2 separate regions of the Homo sapiens genome follow, and region 1 is linked to region 2. The links come from fine-mapping of genetic effects on gene expression. A gene starts in region 2. The other region holds a variant in brackets. All regions are shown on one strand. Distances are from middle to middle. Region 1 overlaps ZNF496-DT (ZNF496 divergent transcript). Region 2 holds the start of ZNF496 (zinc finger protein 496).

Evidence for each region. PIP is the estimated chance that this variant, and not a neighbour inherited with it, causes the effect.
Region 1: its variant is the best candidate, but not a certain one, in a credible set for the expression of ZNF496 in neutrophils (BLUEPRINT, PIP 0.59).

The regions. Positions count from the first base shown.
Region 1 is chr1:247,353,885-247,359,253 of GRCh38, forward strand. The region is part of intron 1 of ZNF496-DT (ZNF496 divergent transcript); the gene reads left to right. Among named protein-coding and RNA genes, the nearest start is that of ZNF496-DT, 25 kb to the left of the region's middle. RefSeq lists an enhancer at 3,846-4,145. The variant C/CAGG (reference allele first, on the strand shown) is at 2,798.
Region 2 is chr1:247,329,287-247,334,623 of GRCh38, forward strand. It overlaps ZNF496 (zinc finger protein 496), which reads right to left and starts at 2,581. Exons shown (of 10, transcript NM_032752.3): 1 at 2,504-2,581; 2 at 2,146-2,361; 3 at 680-795; 4 at 1-329. The coding sequence starts at 292. ZNF496-DT (ZNF496 divergent transcript) reads left to right here and starts at 2,768. Exons shown (of 3, transcript NR_168399.1): 1 at 2,768-3,960. RefSeq lists enhancers at 1-74, 2,461-2,755 and silencers at 1,619-1,858, 2,429-2,538, 2,669-3,148, 4,261-4,555.

The DNA.
Region 1 (5,369 bases), 25 kb after region 2:
AGGAGGCTGAGGCAGGAGAATTGCTTGAACCCAGGAGGCAGAGGTTACAGTTTGCCAAGATTGTGCCATTGCACTCCAGCCGGGGTGACAGAGTGAGATTCTGTCTCAAAAGAAAAAGAAAAGAAAAGAAAAAGAAAGAAGAAACTTAAGCAGGGAAGGAGACTGGGGTATAACCTTACAAGGAGGACAATGAAACTTAGATGACATCCGGGAAGATCGTAACCCCATAGTACTCGACCAATGAAGAACTAGCGGAGGGACTTGTGTGCTAGAAGATAAATTACCTGTTGTGACTGCCCCAGTTGTGCCTGCCCACCAGACACCTGATCTTGCAAGACCGTTACTAAATGTCTCCTTTTCACTGTTCTTCAGGCCTCTAAGTCCATTCTCTGGATTTGGACAGGTGAGTGTGTTTCTCACAAGCATGGGGGCCCATCTGGGATCCATGTGCCTGTGTGAAGTGGGACTTTGGCCGAGAGGGGAGATGTGTCCCACCTGATTTAGGTGGCCCGCTCTATCTGGGCATCCCAGCTTCCCATAGAAGGCATAAACAAACCCAAGACTATTATTCAGGAGGCAGCAGAAGCAACACAGGGAGAAAAGCAGGCACTGCGGGAACCAGGCAAACTCATGCACCAGCCAAGGAAGGAAAATTGGACTGTAAGTACTGCCTTGGTCATGGGGCATTTTTGGAGGTCTCGGGGTGTGCAAGAAACCTCCAGTAAGGGGGGTTGAGTAGACAGGGAAAAACTCAGACGCAGAGACTGGCAGAAAATGGGAAACAGGAATTCTAGGCCTGGGAGCCAAAGGAAAGAGGGAGCCAAAGAGACTCCGTCTGACATTCCCCTGGATAGTCCTTTGGGGAGATTGTTGCAGGTTTGGTGGAACAACCCTCGAACCAGGGACAAGGAAAAGGAAAAGATGATAAAGTATTGCTGTTTTGTCTGGCCCAAAGACCCCATTCATAAGCCTTCTGTCTTTTGGCCTAAGTTTGGCTCAGATGAGGATTGTGTTCTAAGCTTTAATTCTCTCTGTGAATAATAAAACTTCATCCTCACAAGAAGAGATAGGTTACTCTCTGCTGAATCAAGGAATTAGCCCCCATGATCCCCCTCAAAAAAGAAGAAAAAGAGCCTGGTGAAGAGCCCTCACCCAGTGAAAAGCCCTGGGACCCCCTATCGTGCTTGCCCCTTCATACGTCTCACAAAAAAGGGGACAGGAAGATCAAGGGGCAGCAGGAGGGTTAGAGGAAGAAAGACCCAGAGACTACAGGGGAGCCAAGCCAACTGCTCCTTTAAATCCTTATCCAAATTTAAGAAAAGAATTACAAGAGTGTAAGAGGGATATTGAGAACTTCCCTATCCCTTCCACACAGCAGGCATCTAGCATGTTCCCTCTTAGGGAAGTTCCCATGGGACAGGGAGAGATTGGCTTTGTAAACACTCCTCTTGCAAGTACTGAAGTTAGGAATTGCAAGAAGGAAATGAAACCACTCCTAGAAGATCCCCTGGGTTTAGCAGACCAGCTGGACCAATTCCTAGGACCCAGCTTTTACACTTGGGCTGAAATGATGTCTATCATGAATATCCTGTTCACGGGAGAAGAAAGGGGAATGATTAGGAGAGTGGCCATGACCAGTGGGGAGAAGCAACACCCTCCTGGGCAGTGAGACTTGCCAGCCAAACAAAAATTTCCAAATGTTGATCCCGAATGGGATAATAATGATCCCAGGGACTGGGCCCAAATGCAGGACCTCAGGAAACTAGTAATTCAAGGGATCAAAGAGTACACTCCTAGGACACAAAATGTCTCAAAGGCATTTGAGATTCAACAAGAAAAAGAGAAAACTCCCTTCACATTCCTGCAGAGGCTCAGAGATGAGAAAATACTCCAGATTAGATCCGGAGGACCCAGTAGGGCAAGGCCTGTTGCAGATTAACTTTGTTACTAAAAGCTGGCTTGACATTACAAAAAAAAAAATTACAAAAGATTGATGGATGGAATGAGAAACCGATTGAGGAATTACTGAGTGAAGCTCAGAAGGTCTTTGTGAAAAGAGGGGAAGAGAAGCAGAAACAGAAAGGGAACATCATGATTTCCACTGTGGAAGAGGTAGCCAAAAAAAGATTAGCTCAAGATCCCCCTCAAATGAGACAAGGGAATGATAGATTTCGACACAGAGAAAGAAAGGAAATGCAGGGGAAACCTCCTAAGACTATGAGTGGCTAGATGTTACAAGTGTGGAAAGCCAGGGCATCTTAAGAGAGAATGTCCTCAATGGAAAAAAGAAGAAGAGATGATCCCCCTCATGACCGTTGATGAATACAATGGGGGTCAGGGCTTCCTTCTGAGTAGGTCCCACCAAGAACCCTTGATAAATTGGAAGGCGGGACCTTAGGGAGAAGAAGTGACATTTTTGGTTGACACTGGGGCAGCTCACTCCTCCCTAATCCACAAACCAAAGGGTACAGAACTCTCTAAGGAAAAACTGAAAGTATTAGGCGTAAAAGGGGAGGGATTACAGGTTCTGATATTCAAGACAATGTTAATTAGACTGGGACCAGAACACATTGAGGGGTCACTCTTATATATTCCTGAAGCAGGAACTAACCTAGTGGGTAGAGACCTGATTGTGAGATTCAGTTTAGGATTAGGGATACACAGAAAGGACAAATGAAAGTAAGGATGGGCCTCCTAACAGAGGAGGAGGGAAGAAAAATTAGTCCCGTTTTGTGGTTTGGGAAAGGCAAGCGGGGACACTTAAGAATCACAGCCTTACAGATTGGACTAAAACAAC[C/CAGG]AGGAGGAGTTTGCAGAAAACAATATCCCATTTCTGTTGAAGGGAGAAAAGATCTCCAACCAGTAATAGAGGGATTAATTAAAAATGGACTGTTAGAACCCTGCATGTCACCATATAATACTTTTTTTTTTGAGATGGAGTTTCACTCTTGTCATCCAGGCTGGAGTGCAATGGCATGATCTCAGCTCACTGCACCCTCCACCTCCCGGGTTCAAGCAATTCTTCTGCCTCAGCCTCCTGAGTAGCTGGGTGCGTGCCACCACACCCAGCAAATTTCTTTTTGTAGTTTTAGTAGAGATGGGCTTTCACCACATTGGCCAGGCTGGTCTGGAACTCCTGACCTCAGGTAATCCACCCGCCTCAGCCTCCCAAAGTACTGGGATTACACGCTTGAGCCTGTGCCTGGCCAATACTCTAATTCTTTGTGTTGCTTATCTGGGAGGGAGAGATTCTGTGTCTATTCCCAGCCATCTTTTTGCAGCTGCAGGCATCTCCCACCGCCCCCCCATCCCAGTCAGCTTTAGCTTCCCTATCTTAATGTGCCTAAAGGGAAAGGAATGTGCTTATTAAGGCCCACTGTTTATACTGGGCCCGACTGTGGGAGTGTGAAGTTTGGTGTTTACCCAGGAGACATCCCCCGCCTCCTTCTATGCTTAAGTTGTTTATCTGTAGTTTATAGCCTGAACTTTCAGGCTACCCTTTGTTAAAAGAGAAGTGATTTCTTTGAACCGCACGAGATTAGAAAGGAAGCTATTTCAAGAGTGTTAAGGGGAATTATGGAAGGTTTACAAATTTGATGGGATTATCCCACCCCTTGGCATCCTGTGGAAAGGTAAAAAGAATAAACCAAACTCTCAAAAAGCATCTCACCAAACTAAACTTAGAAACTAAAGTGCCTTGGACCAAATATCTCCCATGGCTTTAGGATTAGGATTCGGACAGTCCCCAGAAAAGACTTGGGATTGTCCCCTACAAGTTATTATATGGACTCCCATATTTGGGCAGGGCTACAGATCCTCCCACTATGGAAACCAAAAACCAATTCTTAAGAAATGATATACTGGCCATATCTTCCACCCTGTCATCCCTCAGGTTAAAAGGTCTTCTGACGCAAGCTCTGCCTCTTGAGTTCATGGTTCACTACTTCCAGCCTGGCAACTTGGTGCTGACTAAGATTTGGAAAGAAGACAAGCTCCACCCAAGCTGGGAAGGTCCCTGTCAAGTGCCTCTGCCCCTGAGACAGCCCTGCGAACAGCTGAATGGGGGTGGACTCACTACACTGGAATCAAGAGGCCGGTAAAAGAGACCTGGAAAGGGAAGGAGAAAGAACAGTGGGAAGTGCATGGGTCACCTGACGAACACTTAAAGTTAACTCTGAGAAAAATTTAGAAAGAAAGCGTGGGCTGGCTGCATTTCTGAAAGGTAATAAGGCTGGGATGGGTTAGTATACAAAGAGCAGAAGGTCAAAATGGAAACTGGCAGGGGACTCCCCACTGCTCAATCAGGTTGGTGATTAATATGATTAAGACGGTAGCACCCCAAACTATAAGATTTGATGCCTGTCAGGTTTTACCTTGTGGGAATTTAGAAAATCAGAGACAGCTCTCGCAGGCAGATAAATCTCTTTGCCTTGAACCAGATGCAGGTTGCAGTAGGGCATCACCCTTCCCCAGCTGGGAGGATGTATGGTGCGCTACCCAATTTCAGGGTTGGACAGTAAACATGGTGTGGGTAACTCCAAACTGGAAACCCTTGAAGCATAAACTACCTCTGTCCAAGCGCTCCCCACCAAATAACTGCCAGAATTTAGAATGCCATCCTATACTCATCACCCTTGACAATTCAGCCTTTCTAGACCAAGAACCAAAAGTAGCATCTCAGGTATATGGGTTAGGAGAAGACATCACAAGGAAAGACCCCCAGGTCGATTTGATCTCAGGCTAATCAAGAACTCAACCTCCCATTTGCCTGGAACTACTCCAACCCCAGACCCTAATAAACACTTTAGTCTACCAAATATTAACCCTAAAATGGTAACAATAATTGAGGTAAAGGATTTAAGGCAAACCTTAGAAATTGAGACAGGGTATAGGGATGTGAATGCCTGGGTCAAATGGGTCATATTTTCGGTACAAGCCCTCAGCAAAAGTAACTGCTACGCGTGTGCTGCAGGACCACCTCAGGCGCAGGTGGTTCCGTTTCCCCTGGGATGGAATAGTGATTCTAGAGGAATGTGTTGCATGTTGGCTGCATACCAGCACAATGATATAAGTAAGGAGAAGTAAGACTTGTAAGAGTCTTTCATTGCTGTTTCCTGCATTGCGGAGCTCAGATCCCAGAGCAATACCCTCGTTCTCTGCAGAGAACATGAACTACTCCTCTTGCCTCTCTAGACAGGGGGCAGAGTTCCATAAGCCTATGGGAGAACTCTCAACTTGTACCCACATCCTAAACGTCACTGGTGAGTTGAGCAATGGCAATTACTCAGCTCTCCATACACCCCGGGCTGATGTCTGGTAGTATTATGGGAAAAGGAACCTACGTAACCTGTTACTGTCCAATGGGACCAGGA
Region 2 (5,337 bases):
TCTCCCGGGGCAGGATGGCCAGGAACTGCTCCAGCACCAGCAGCTCCAGAATCTGCTCCTTGGTGTGCCTCTCAGGCCGCAGCCAGCCCCCGCACAGGTCCCAGAGGCGCTGCAGGGCCTCCCGGGGGCCCGCCGCCTCCTGGTAGCGGAAACGGCGGAAGAGACGCCGAGAGGACTCGGGGCTGGGAAGCTCCCCCTGGGGGCTAGGGTTCTCTCCAGGTGGGCTCCTCATTTTCCTGGGCTCCTCACTTTCCTTCGGAGCCAAGACTCGGGGGCACAGGGCTGTGGGCATGATGGGATTTGATGGGGGTCAGCAGCAGAAGACGACCCTATTTCCAAACAGAAATCACTGGCTTCAGTGTTCTGGTCTCCTGTGGTCATTTCTGGGGGACAGTGACAAGGAAACTGTCAATGCCCTCAGAGACCAGCCCTTTGGAGAAGCCCTGGGAAAGGTAGGGAGTGTTGGTGTGGCTGGTCTTTACACACAGGATGAAACAGACAGAAAGATGCCCTCCCCCCATCAGTACCATTACGTGTGGATTCCCGTTAAGTGGGTGACTGGATGAACAAGACAGGAAATCTGGGAGAAAGTGGTGGCATTTCAACGTGACACTGCTGTTTTGAGCATCCCAGGAAACCAACAGCGCCACATGCAGATGTAATCAAGACGCTCTGGTACCTTGGGTGGCTGGGTCCTCCTGGAGAGATCCGAGATGGGCAGGCCAAGCAGGCCACTATCTTGAAGCTCCGGAGCCGAAGTCACTGTTCTTGTTATTAAGACCTTTACAAATGGAGCTGGAATGACAAAGACATGCATCGGATGAGCCTTCAAGCACATCCAGGAATGGAAAATCCACCCTTCTGGTGGCAGAGGGCTGATGGTGCTGCGTGCTGGATGGACAACCCAGCCAGAATCAGCTTTGCCCAGCAGAGTCTGCAATGGGAGGCAAGGGAAAACATCACATGAGACAGCTACATGCAGTCTACCAGGGACAAATAACACTGCATCTAGAAGTATCAGTGGTTTCCTATGAGCCTTCTGCCAATTCTGCCCTGACCTTCAACCTCGCCTCCACCCTATTCTCTATCCTTGCCCTCTTCAAACCACATTGAAGGCAACTGCACACTCGCCAAAGCCCTTCCTCGGCCAGGACAGAAAAGTGGGTCCGTCACTGCACAGCTCAGCCCTCAAAGAACCCCTGGACACTGCAGCTGCCACACCCCCAAGGTGGGACTCAGGGGTCCCTACACCTCCCCGCTGGTGTGCAGACAACTAGCCGACACTTTTGCCACAACTAGGGTGGCAAGAGACCAGCAACCAGTATACCTGGTGTTTATGATTCCCACTTTAGAACGCTGGGCCCGTGAAAGGGCACATGGGGACACTCACAGTCCCCTTCTCTGCCATCAGGCCTCTGTGATCCTTAGGACCGGCAGTGCCTGCCACTCCCCCATCTGCACGAGGTTGTCCAGCGTGGCCGCGTCTTAACCTCCAACAGCTCACAAGGTGGGAAGGGGGACTCGGGCCTCACTCCCATTTCACAGAAAGACAAGTGATGCCAGAAAAGCTACGGAACAACTGAGTGGTTCCAGAAACACCCACTGCTCTGAATCTCTTTGCTTTCCAAAGTAACAACATACACAGAAACCCATATGGGGGCCGTGGCGGCGTCGGGCTGGACGCATTACAGCGCTCCCCACCACCGGATCGCTTCCAGGGCGGCTCCGGCATCTGGAGCCCGGGGTGGGCCCCGCCCGCCCTGCTCGGCGGCCCCCTGCGGCGCCCATCACACACCTGCAGCGCCCAGGACTACTCAGGCCCGCCCCCCCGAGCACCGGCGCCCACCCGGGCTGCCACTCGGATCGTCTCCAACCAGACGGCCGCGTCCGTCTTTGTCACGGCGGCACCTGGCGCGTCGGAGGCTCGGAGGAGATGCCTGATGAATGAACTAACGTGAGTGAGGCGGAGGAGGGCCCCGCAGGGGCGGAGCGAGCTCCCAGCCTTTCGCGGAGGAGGGACCGAGCTGGATCGGCAGAAAGGGAAGGAGAAGGTCGCTGTGGGCCAGGGAAGGGGGAGCCCGCCCTCCGCGCCCTCGGTCTCCCTCACACGCGCGTCTCCCGTCTCGCCGGCTCCGGGCTCCTCACCTCACAGCCTGGAGCTCCCTCCCGGCGTCCGGCCGAAAACCCTCCTGTGGCGGCGGAAGTCCAGGGCAGCCGTCCTCATCCTCCCAGCCCGCCCGGCCGGGCGTACTCGCTGAGGCGGGGTCTCCGCAGGCGCCCGGCTCCTTTCCCGGCCCGTCCAGACCGCGTCTCCCGATCATCCGGAAAGCCACGGCTCGGCTCGGGGGCAAATGGAGGCGCCTGAAAAACAATGGTGTTGCTTTCTCCCCCGCCCGCACCTTCCTGAGCGCTGGGCTCTGGGCTGGGAGGCGGCGCCGCGGAGGCCGGGCGCGGGCCGAGGAGGGCGGGGCGGGGCCGGCCGCGGGAGCCGGGGTGCACTCACCGCCGCGGCGCGTCCCTGTTGGCGGGCGGCGCAGGCCTGGCCGCCGCGGGAGCCCGCCGGACGCCGAGGAAAGGAAAGGCCGGAGCCCTCCGGCTCCCTCCCCTGGGACACTTCCTGCTCCGCTCTAGGACTGGGGAGGTCTCCGCATCTCAGTGGTTCGCTCCCCCGCCCCCCGGCCGAGGTGTGCGCTGGGGGTGACATCCGACACCCCCGGCCCGCCCCGCTCCGCGCGCGCCTGGGCCTGGCCGCCGGGCCGGGGGCTTTGTGGGTCAGCCACGTCGCCGCGCCCGGGCTTCCCCGCGGGCCCGCCGGTCCGGAAGGTCGGCCCGGGGCTCTTTTCTCCGCTGTTCTCCTTCTCTGGCGCCCCCAGGACACGCGGCCAGTGGACGCCCGGAACGGCCGACCGGGAGTCGCGGCTGGGGATGGAAGCTGGAATTGGGGGTGCGGGATGGAGCGGAGAGAGGAGGCCCCGCGCGCCGTCGGCCGCCTCATTTCAGACTCCCCTGCGACCCCCCCCCCGCCGCCAGCCGAAGCCCGGGCCGCCCAGCCCCTCCTGCCGCTGCGGGACGCCGAAGGTAGCGCTCACATCCGCGCCTTCCGGGCCTGGCGCCCACGTGCGGAGTCCCCGGGTTAGGAAAGGCCGCGCATCCGGAGGCCACGCAGAGCCTCGGGGCTTGCGCAGAGGGGCTGCGGTGAGTCCTGACCCTGAGTGGGGGTCACGGGGCTCGTTGCTCGCTGAAGTGAACACGGTTGCAGCTGTGCACAGTGGCGGAGGGAGAGGATGAGGGACTCTGACCCAAGGTTATGTGGCAGTGAGGGGCAAGCAGAAATGGGGGCCTCCGGACCCCACCCCGAGACAGGGCTGCTGGCCGCTGCACTATGCTGAATATAGCCCAAATTCTTACATGGGTCGTCCCCGGGGAATGCTCATTTTTCAGGCTCCAGAGCTTGAGAGAAAGTGCGAACCCGGTCCCTGAGCAGGTCTGATTCCCATGGCCCCTTCGCCATCTGCTCTGCACCGAAATTGGATTCTCCTACGCAGAGGAGAAGGTGGAGAAGATTCTCCGTCTTCCGGAGGGTAGCTACTGCCGGTAGCTCCGATTTCCTTCGGATCCCCTTTCAAGGGCAAGCAGAAGGAAATCAGTTTCTCCAAAGAAAGTGGCCCGGCTGAGTAAGTGGGAACAAGGTGGTTGGACTGAGGCACGGGATCCTTTAGCTCCGTTGCTCTTCTAATCCCGTGGCCCTGGGCACCGCCACTTCCTCCTCTGAACTGCTGGAATAATCACTTCTGACTAGCAGAGTTACTGGGAGCCGCTGTTTGTCAGTGTTCACATTCTGACTTTAGCAGGAGATGGAGCGAGCGAAGGAGTGAAGCCCTTGTTTGTGAACAGTGATTGTTTCCCGGATGACAGCCAGATGCCGGGCAGGGCCACGCAGATCTTAGCTGGAGCCTACAGGTACAAGTGAGAGCCACCCCCTTTGACGTAACTGGACTGGCATTTACAGAACTCATGTACAGCCCACTCTCAGGAACACCAGCCAGGAACCGTGACATGGAGGAGAGGAATTGGGAGGAACCGAGGGGTCATCAAAGGCTGGTAGGGCTTAGGTGCTCTAGCAAACATCCTAGTCTGTGGGGTTCCAGAGCTCTGGTGCTACAGCTCCCAACCCTTTGATTGGCCCAGGAACTGGCTGTTGAGTGGGCATCCGTGTTCATAGCTCTGCCCCTTGCAACCCTAAAGCAGATAAAATGCAGGAGGCAGAAATTGCTGGCAGACAGCATCCAATTAATCCCCACTACCCAATTCAGTTTCTTCCCCTGACCTGACACGTCCCTGCCCAGCTGTGCCTCCCACTGTTCACCTTTTGAGGCACAAAACGGGCTGTTTATGCTGCTGCTGCATTTAGCTCAAAACAGGGCTTCAGAGTCAAGGTTCTGGACTCAGGCACCCGGATTAAATCCTGCCCTATGAATTCCTAGCCAGGTGACCTCAGGCCTACATAACCTTTCTGTACCTCAACTTCCTCATCCAGAAAACAGGGATGATGCTGTCTACCTCATTGGATGGTTGTGCAGGATCAAAGATTCAGTCATTCAGCAAACCTATACCGAGTACCTACTGTACACTCATGAGTGCTAGGCAGCCAGCCTTCCAGGTGCTCAGGTACATCTGTGAACACAACTGGCTATTGGAGGAAGCAAAATCAGTAACATGACCTGCTCTCTTTGATCTGTGCTACAGAAAAAAAGGAAAGTGGAGAGGCATCAGGAAGTCAGGAGTGCTGGGGAGGGGCTGGTAACAGTCATGGTATTAAAGAGGAGGGCAGGCAGGCCTTACTGTGAAGGTGGTATTTGAGATGAAGTAGTTGGTCAGAGTCCCTGTTTGACACATGGAGACCACCTTGACAGCAAAGGCCCTAAGGGGGAGCGGTGCGAAGCAAGGTGGGCTGGTGAGTGAGAGGAGAGGGATGGCATAGAGCTGGGTGGGGGCACAGGAGCCCGTGGGGAAGGTGTTCGCCTCTGAATGAAGTGGGGTTGTATCAGATACCACGGGTGAAGCATCGGGAAGAGGATCCTGCCTGTAAACCCTGCTCAAGGACTGCACCATCATCATGCCCAGTGTGTGCGTGTATTAGGTTTGTATGAATATAATGTTGCCAATTGTATCTGTTTTTATGAAATGTTTGCTATGTGCCAATGATTATTCGATCCATGGGGAGACCATAGAAGAATGATCCAAGGAGTTGGGAGGGGAATCAAATAATAAATCAGCGATTCTGCAATATAACGCCATTGGTGATCGGTGTCATGAAAGAAATACAACATGGTGGGG